Regions from separate parts of the Homo sapiens genome. Here regions 1 and 3 are each linked to region 2. Evidence: fine-mapped expression QTL. A gene starts in region 2. Each other region holds a variant in brackets. All regions are shown on one strand. Distances are between the middles of the regions.

Region 1 (2,767 bases), 22 kb after region 2:
CATTACTCAGTCACCTCTTAAAGGCCACATCCTTTAATACTGTTGCTTTGGGGATTAAGTTTCGACATGAATTTTGGAGGGGACAAAAACATCCAAACCATAGCAACATAAATGTATAGAATATTTCACACAAAGCAGAGTGCTGGGTAATGACCAGATATAAAGAAGTATTTGAAATGACCTTACCTCCAAGATGCTTATACTCTTAGAAAAGTTGACAGGTACAGATGGCTGTAATTTGAAGCAGCAGGTAGGATTCATTGCACCTATTATTCATTAAACACCTGTTGTATGTCTTCTACTGTACTGGAGTGCTTAGTATTAGTTAATTAACTCATTCCTCATAACAGCCCACTAAGATAGATGGTATTACCTACCTTGATAGATGAAGAAAGACCAACAAGGTTTTACTTTTCCAAGGTCAAGGTCACAAAGCTAGTAAGGGGTAAAGCCATGATTAGATTCAGCTCAGGAAGATTCCACTGGCAACTCCTTACTTCTACTATTATTAATTTTACTTTAACATTTAACACCTTACAGCAGAAAACATGCACAGGCACTAATAGGAAATCAGCAGGAGTAACAGGTAAAGAAAAACATGGTCCTTATCTACAAGCAGTTCACAATTGAGCTGGAGCCAAAGTAACATACATAAAATAACTGTAGAATAGTTGTTGGGCAAGTTGGAAGCCACCCAAGTGGCTGTCCTTGGAAAAGGGGGAAGATGACATGTGGTAGAGGTACACGATGAGGTATAGCGGGTAGAAGCAATGGAATAAATGCATACATAACAACATGGATATGTACTAGAGGCATAGTCATAAGTGAAGAAATAAAGAAGCAACGCTAACACAATACTGTTCACATACACAAATATATGTGCACAGAAGATAGTGCTCATTTTGCAAGAAAACATACAACCTAATTAGATATATATTTAGGTATGGTAATAGTTACTTAGGATGGGGAGGAAACGGGGTGAACTATGGGGATAAAATATAATAAAGAGAGGACTCTTGCGTGACCAGTGATGAAAACTGGAATAACAACATTATTTATTGAATACAACACACCAATTATAAGAATGAAAAGATTGGAATAATTCTAGAATGCCACAAAATAACATATGTCATGTGGCCTGGTACAGACTATAAGCATAATAGTTCAGAAAAGGGAGATTTGCAGATAGAATCATGTGGAAGCCCTTCCTGATGAAGGTGTCACTTGCACTGGGCCTTGAAAGAAAGGAATTTAGACAGATGAAGAGAAGCTTCAGGAGGCCAGGTTCCAGGTCAGTTTTGTTTTATTCATCACTGAATCTCCAGTGCCTGCCTAGCATTGTGCCTGCTGATGTCTGTTCAACTACTCCAGCCAATGA[A/G]TGGTAGAAGAGGTATATATAAATTAAAATCTTTAAAGATTCATCTGTATGGCATTTTTTTCTTTCTTTCTTTCTTTCTTTTGGAGATGGAGTCTTACTGTGTCGCCCAGGCTAGAGTACAGTGGCACTATCTCAGTTCACCGCAATCTCTGCCTCCTGGGTTCAAGCGATCCTCCTGCCTCAACCTCCCAAGTAGCTGGGACTACAGGTGTGCACCACCATGCCCGGCTAAGTTTTGTATTTTTAGTAGAGACGGGGGTTTCACCATGTTGGCCAGGCTGGTCTCAAACTCCTGACCTCAAATGATCCACCCGCCCTGGCCTCCCAAAGTGCCACCGCTCCCGGCCTGTGTATGGTATTTTTCTATGGCATGTAATTTTCTGTACACACCCTCTTTCTTTCTTAGGCTTTTTTGTCAGCAGCCCAAGATGGAAAAGGCAGCTTTATGTCAAGGTTCGCCAAAGACAGTCAAGAGCTGTGAAAGCCAAATGTTCACATTTAACTTTTTTTAAAGTATTTATTACTCGGCATCAATGTATTTCTTAATCATTATCCTGAGTGGACTTTTAAGTAGGAAGAAAATGGTGTGTTCATTACTCCAAAGCTGAAACACAGTTGGGGTTGTGTAAGGTGACAGCAGGTGAGTTGGTAAAAGAGTTAGCAGAAGTGACGGCTTTCGTTTCCTCAACTACTGGATTCACCAGTAAGCCACATGAGACCTCAGTCACAATCGGTAATTCAAAGGTAGATTTAAATATAAATATCCTGTTATTTCTGACACCTTTACTGAGGTATAATTGATGTATGATAAACTGCATATATTTAAAGTGTACAATTTGTTAAGTTTTGCCATATGGCTACACTTGTGAACCATAACCACAATCAAGAGAGTAAACACATATATCAGCCCCAGAAGTTTCCCTTTGCCCTTTTGTAATCATTTCCCCTCGCCCACCCCATTCCAGGCAACCAATGATGTGCTTGCATTATTATAGATTAGTTTGCATTTTATAGTTTTACATAAATGTAATTATACATTTTGTACACATAAACTGCTGGCGGGAATGTCAAAAGGTACAATTAACTTGAAAAAGACTTTTAGCAGTTCCTTAAAAATTTAAATATACACTTATCATATGATTTAGCCATCCCAGTCCTAGGTATTTGCCCAAGAGAAATGAAAGCTTATGTCCACATAAAGACTTGTAAATGAATGCTCATAGCAGCTTTACATAATAGCCCAAAACTGGAACCAACAAATGTCCATCAACAGGTGAATGGTATAAACAAACTGTTATATTCTATACCATGCAGCACTACTCAGCGATAAAAAATAATGAATGATTGATACATAAAACAACATGGAAGAACCTCAAAGAAGCCAGGGCA
Region 2 (2,767 bases):
AATTAAAAAACAATTTCAGATATAGTTCAGAAGTAATTGTGAAAAGAGGTGAGATTAGGGAAAGATGACTCTGAGTCCAGATAACCCCAAAAAGCTTTTTAGAGAAGGATGAGGGTGGGGAGGCAGGTAGGGGGTTTATAATAGGATTTAAAAAGAGAAGGAAGAGCTATTTAAGGAAATTTGATTACTGCAAGTAACATTCTTCAAAACATTTAAAGAAAAACAAAAGTTTGGCAGGCAAGACTAGAAAAAGAAAACAACACTGGGGAGGGAAGTCACTGCTTCTTTTATTTCCATGACTGTTTTAAAGTCATATTTAGTTTCAGCCAAGGAAGAGCCTTTGACATCAGAGCACACAAAGTACTCTAGGAAATGAAGAGGATGAAAGTTCTACTGCATCAACGCCCAGAACTTTCTCCATTTGGCCACAGGTCGTTCTCATACATGGCCTAGTTTCTATGCACTCTAACTGGGTCCCTCTGAGGCTTGTGAATGGAAAACCCTCTTGCTTTCAAATGCTTGAAAACAAGAAAGATGCTACTATTGATGCCTCAAATACATGTAGGTATTTAGTGGGAAGCAATTAAATGTTTTGAAGGTCATTTCAAACGGAAATTAATCAAAAACAGTATTTTACTCTTTTGTGTATTAGAGTAGGCAAGACCTTGGTGTTTTCATTACATTCTCTGTTTTTATTTGCTGTTTACATTAGGATGTGAATAATGGCTTGGGTAAGGGGAGGATTTGGTACCAACCTAGGCTTTGGTTGCCAAACAGACACCAGAGTAAATTTGTGTGTGGTCAGAATCAGGTTGTAAGGTGCCAACACAGCACATGGCTTCAGTCTTTTTTTCTCTAATTGTAAAAGGACCTTGTCCCCATGGAGGGACCATTGCCTTGGCTTGTGGGGTCTTGAGTGATAGCCACAGTCTTTCTTCAGCACTTTCTCGACCTCATGAAAAGATACTGAAGCTTGAAAAGGGGATGTTCTTTCTGAATAGGAATGGAGAAGAGGGGCCAAGCAAGAATGATTCTATCTGTCTCCTGGCCGTTGATAGTGTCCCTGTACAGAGAGGAAATAACGTAGTATAATATGTAGCTTATGTTTGAATCAGCTTCTTTAAAAATACTGGAATTTTATTTATTTATTTTTGGTAGACACAGGGTTTCCTCATGTTGCCCAGGCTGGTCTCGGACACTTGAATTCAAGCAATCTGCCGGCCCCGCCGGGTGTGCCGCATGAGGGCGCGGGCCGCCCAAGGACCGCGAGTGGGGCCGCGAGTGCTGAGCCCGGCGCGCCCGAGCCGCTCCTCCTCCCGGCCTGCTCCCTGGGCGGAGCCGGGGCAGTGCGGCTCTGGGCTGGCCGAAGGGGTGGCGCTGCGATCCCGCAGGGCAGCGACGCGACTCTGGTGCGGGCCGTCTTCTTCCCCCCGAGCTGGGCGTGCGCGGCCGCAATGAACTGGGAGCTGCTGCTGTGGCTGCTGGTGCTGTGCGCGCTGCTCCTGCTCTTGGTGCAGCTGCTGCGCTTCCTGAGGGCTGACGGCGACCTGACGCTACTATGGGCCGAGTGGCAGGGACGACGCCCAGGTGAGGACCGGCCAAAGCCTCTCCCGAGTGGGAGGCCGGGCTCGGAGCTGCCGAGGCGTGTCCGGGTCTCCGGGGGTTCTGCAGTGATCCCGGGTCCTTTGTGGGTTGCGTGGAGCTTCCCGAAGGCCCGGCTGCCCCTTACGCAGGGGCTGCGGGTTGGGGAGGAAGAGGCGAGGGCTAAAAAGCCCCTTTGTCTTCTGTACTGGTCGGAAGATGGCATGGACTTGCCATTCAGGCTAGGAAACCTCTCCAGGGAGTGCCAAACTGTTAAGAGAGCACTGGAGTCGGCGGTGCTCCTGAGGACTCTGACATCTTACGCAGGACTCAAGGGATTCTGGTGTTGTCTCAGAGGACGATACTTTGAGAAACAGTGAGCGTCCCCCTGCGTTTGTAAGGGAAACTCCTTTGTAAGTACCGGAAGCCCGGTCGTTCTACTACCTGAAGTAGTCTGTCCTCCACTTCCCACTCCTGCAGTTTTGAAATAAAATCTGAGATAATCCGAAGTCCTTCACCTACTTACTCATTCTAGTCAAACACTAGAAAGAACTAAAAATGGCAGTTTGCTGGAGCGAGATCATTATTGGCATACTGCCTATCTCACTTTATCTGTGTCTTGCTTAATATTTGACATCGTGTACATTTGCTGTATGTTGGCTCAGCGCTTTACACACATAACATTTAACTTTTACAACAACTCTTACAAGGTAGGCATTATTAATCTTATTTTCCAGATAGGGAAACTGATGTTCAGAGAAATTAAATGACCTACCGAAAGCTAGGCTTTGGATCCTTAAGGACTTGGGGAAATGGGGTTTCCCTGGACCAAGTTTCTGGTATAAAAATACTCAAAGCATGTTACAAAGTTTGCTTGGAAGAGATAGTAGCTCGAAAGATAGACTATGTTTGGGGGGGGCGTTATGGGTTGGGCGTTGAGGGGGGTGATATTGATCCCAAGGTGAGAATTGGTTCCTGTGGACAAAAAAAAAAAAAAAAAAAAATCTGGTAATACAGTGGTTTGTGCCCCTCCAAAGCTTAACCCCACCCGAGAAAATATTATTCCTTAGTATTTCATTTTTCTGGTTGGGTTTTCTTGGGTATAGCATGTGCAGCACTGACATTGAGTTCACGAAAAATACACAACATGGACGCCACAGCAGTGCTACAAAACTATGGCAAGTGA
Region 3 (2,767 bases), 25 kb before region 2:
TATGTCTGCCTCACTTTCCATAACTCTGCCAGCATTAAATGATTAAATTGTTTTGCGAATCAGTTATAAAATAGTTTTTTAATTTTTCTGATTATTAATTAAATTCCCCTCAAGTTTTTATGAACTAATTTTATATTCATTTACATAAATGATCAGTCCACCTTCCTTGCCAATTTTTCTGTTAGAAATATCTGTAAATATATTTATTAATATATTTCTTAGGGATATACAGGAACTTTTCTGTACTATAGAGCTTAAACTTAGTTGTCAATGTTTTAATATTTCAACATCTATCAACATCTAAATGCCACAATCATTTCTGTGCAGAGTGAAGGTCAGGTAGCCTCAGCTTGTCCAACTCTGGCCTTTGCATCTTTTCATTGCTGTGATATTGTTTATTCCAAGAAGCAGCTGGTCTCTGTTCCCATGCATTGACATATGCCCAGAGAATTTCAAGGCACTCCAGAAAGAGAAGGAAATATGAATCCAAAAATCACAGTATTTGTTTGTTTTGTGTTTGTACACATTACATGAATCAAGTTTTGTAGGAAGCATAAGGACATTATCCCTTCAAGTGGCTAAGATAGATGCTCTCGGCTCAGATGGTATTTTTTAAACAAAAACAACAGACTTGACCTTGATATTTTTCTCTCATCTTCATTGTGGATTGATGAGACAGGCAAGGGAAATACTATTTGTTCTTTATGCCTAGATCCTTCATCCAAAGGATTCATTAGTTTACAAACATTGACCTCAAACTGAACCCAAGTCCTATTCTCTACTCCACTCTACAAATGGCCATTTTACATTAAAAAAACAGAGCTAAGTAATTTTATTGAGCTTATAAATACCTTAACAACAAAGCCAGGAATTGGATATTTCTGTTTTCATCCCTTATTATTATTATTTCATATACCATTTATACAGAAGTGTACAACTACTATCCACTTACATTCTCCAGAACCAGGGCATTAGGCAGCATTCTTTGGGGCACCAGTCTGTAGTCCTTTCTCCTACACAAATAACATTTTTAAAGGTGCAGGTTATCTCCTAGACTGTTGGGCAAAGGCCCAAATCCTTCTGGAGCAATCTGCCCGTGTTTTCTGACACATAAGGATTTGCTCGCTAATGCCGCCCATGTCTCTCTGGAAGGACTTTGATGAATGAATGGCATTTTCCACTACTTGGTGAATTGTGTGCTCCTGTGGATAATAAAAATAAATCCAACCAACATGATTACATTTCAGAGAAGAGGTGACAGAGCAGGGAGCAACCAATCAAAAGTATCTAGAGCACCAAATTATGCC[C/A]CAGAGGAGTCATCTTGCATATCCTTGGTTCTGTTTCCATGGTAGTAAGCATTGCTTGGTATATTCAAAGGCAATTTAAATGCATTTAGGCCGCAGCTTACAAGGGGATAATCTTGGGAAAATCAGAAGTGAGTAAACATTAACAGCTAGTAAAATAAGCAGTTTTGAAAATTGCACTCCATCTTGCTTGCTTTTCTGTTTAGGGAAAAATATTTTTTTTGACATCTGGAAATTATGTCTGCTTCTAACTTGGGCTTCAGATGACTCATTTCAAGACAGTGCCACAGTTGCCATATGCTAGACTGCAGAAACTTGAGGCTGCTTATTTTTTAAATTTAATTTTTTAGCTCAAAGGTATGAATTTGCATTACTGTTCTCCCCAGGGCCAGCCTGAGGAGTGTGCAGACCAGGCCTGGAGGGTCCCCCTCTCTGAAAATACAACTCCTCACTTATGCTGCAGGGCTAGAGATTCACTTCTTTAAGTTCTGCGGGCTTTTTAGCTTTTCAGAGTCTCCAGGGGAAATTCAAAGGCACCTCTGCGAAGGAAGCTTAGACTGGCACCTTAAGCATCACCAGTTGTTCTCTGCTAACACCCTGGTAGGAACCTGGAAAGAAGACATGAAATAGACACAGAAAAAGGAAGAAGGGACTGGAAGAAGGAAGTGACAGTAGCAAAAACAAAAAGCCTGTTTTCTCATTTTTCCCCTAGAGCATTTCATGATTGTAATAATGGGACAAAGGCCTTGTGTTGCTCTATTTATTGTATAATTTTGTTTAACAGATACCTTTTTAGCACTTACTGTGTGTTAGATACCAATCTATGCGCTTTATAAATATTGACTCATTAATTCCTTATAACTACCTTAAGGTATGAACACTTTTATTATCTCCACTGGGTAGTTGAGGAAACAGGCACAAAGAGGTTGAGGTGGAGGGTCTCAAGGTCACAAGCTAGTAAGTGGCAGAGCCAAGATTCTGCATCGAAGTCATTGGGTGCCAGCATCCCAGCTCTCAGCCGCTATACTCTGCTTATATACTAACCATATATGTTTTCAATTCTTTTTGAAAGTGTTGGTATTAGAAAATGTGGATGAGAAGTCAGCTTAATGGTAACATAGCCAGAATTTATAGCCAGAATTTGGCTTTCAGTTGGAGAATTATAATAATGTCTATAGCGGACTGGGAAGGCCGAGTCCTGGAATTCTATTCTTCGTCTGTTTTATGTAGCACTTAGAGAGCTAGAGCAACTCATAACCTCTGTATTCATCTTTGGATGGAGATTTTGAAGTTCATCAGATAAGAATTTTAATTTTCAAATAAAAGAGAAGTTGAACTTTCCCAAAGGGCATTTGGGCATTAGCCCAAAAGTGAAGGAAACTTCACTTTTTGATCATTCAAAAACAGAGAATAATGGGATGGGAGAATAAAGGAGGGGGCTCAAAGTATTTTGTGGAATCTGA

Alleles and levels. Positions count from the first base shown, and alleles are read on the strand shown. Sizes are in standard deviations (SD) of each study's normalised expression. Not every link is listed here.
For the expression in minor salivary gland of the gene that starts at base 1,366 in region 2, allele G in region 1 goes with a lower level than allele A (moderate effect, 0.42 SD a copy in GTEx).

What was found. PIP is the estimated chance that this variant, and not a neighbour inherited with it, causes the effect. A credible set is the group of variants that fine-mapping cannot tell apart.
Region 1: its variant is the best candidate, but not a certain one, in a credible set for the expression of DHRS7 in minor salivary gland (GTEx, PIP 0.59).
Region 3: its variant is the best candidate, but not a certain one, in a credible set for the expression of DHRS7 in fibroblasts (GTEx, PIP 0.71).

What each region holds. Positions count from the first base shown.
Region 1 is chr14:60,141,658-60,144,424 of GRCh38, reverse strand. It overlaps PCNX4 (pecanex 4), which reads right to left. Exons shown (of 11, transcript NM_001330177.2): 11 at 1-2,767. DHRS7 (dehydrogenase/reductase 7) reads left to right here. Exons shown (of 7, transcript NM_016029.4): 7 at 1-306. Among named protein-coding and RNA genes, the nearest start is that of DHRS7, 22 kb to the left of the region's middle. The variant A/G (reference allele first, on the strand shown) is at 1,379.
Region 2 is chr14:60,163,997-60,166,763 of GRCh38, reverse strand. DHRS7 (dehydrogenase/reductase 7) reads left to right here and starts at 1,366. Exons shown (of 7, transcript NM_016029.4): 1 at 1,366-1,587. The coding sequence starts at 1,455. RefSeq lists a silencer at 1,133-1,402 and enhancers at 1,603-1,652, 1,843-1,902.
Region 3 is chr14:60,188,949-60,191,715 of GRCh38, reverse strand. No RefSeq gene overlaps it. Among named protein-coding and RNA genes, the nearest start is that of DHRS7, 25 kb to the right of the region's middle. RefSeq lists an enhancer at 1,697-1,816. The variant C/A (reference allele first, on the strand shown) is at 1,308.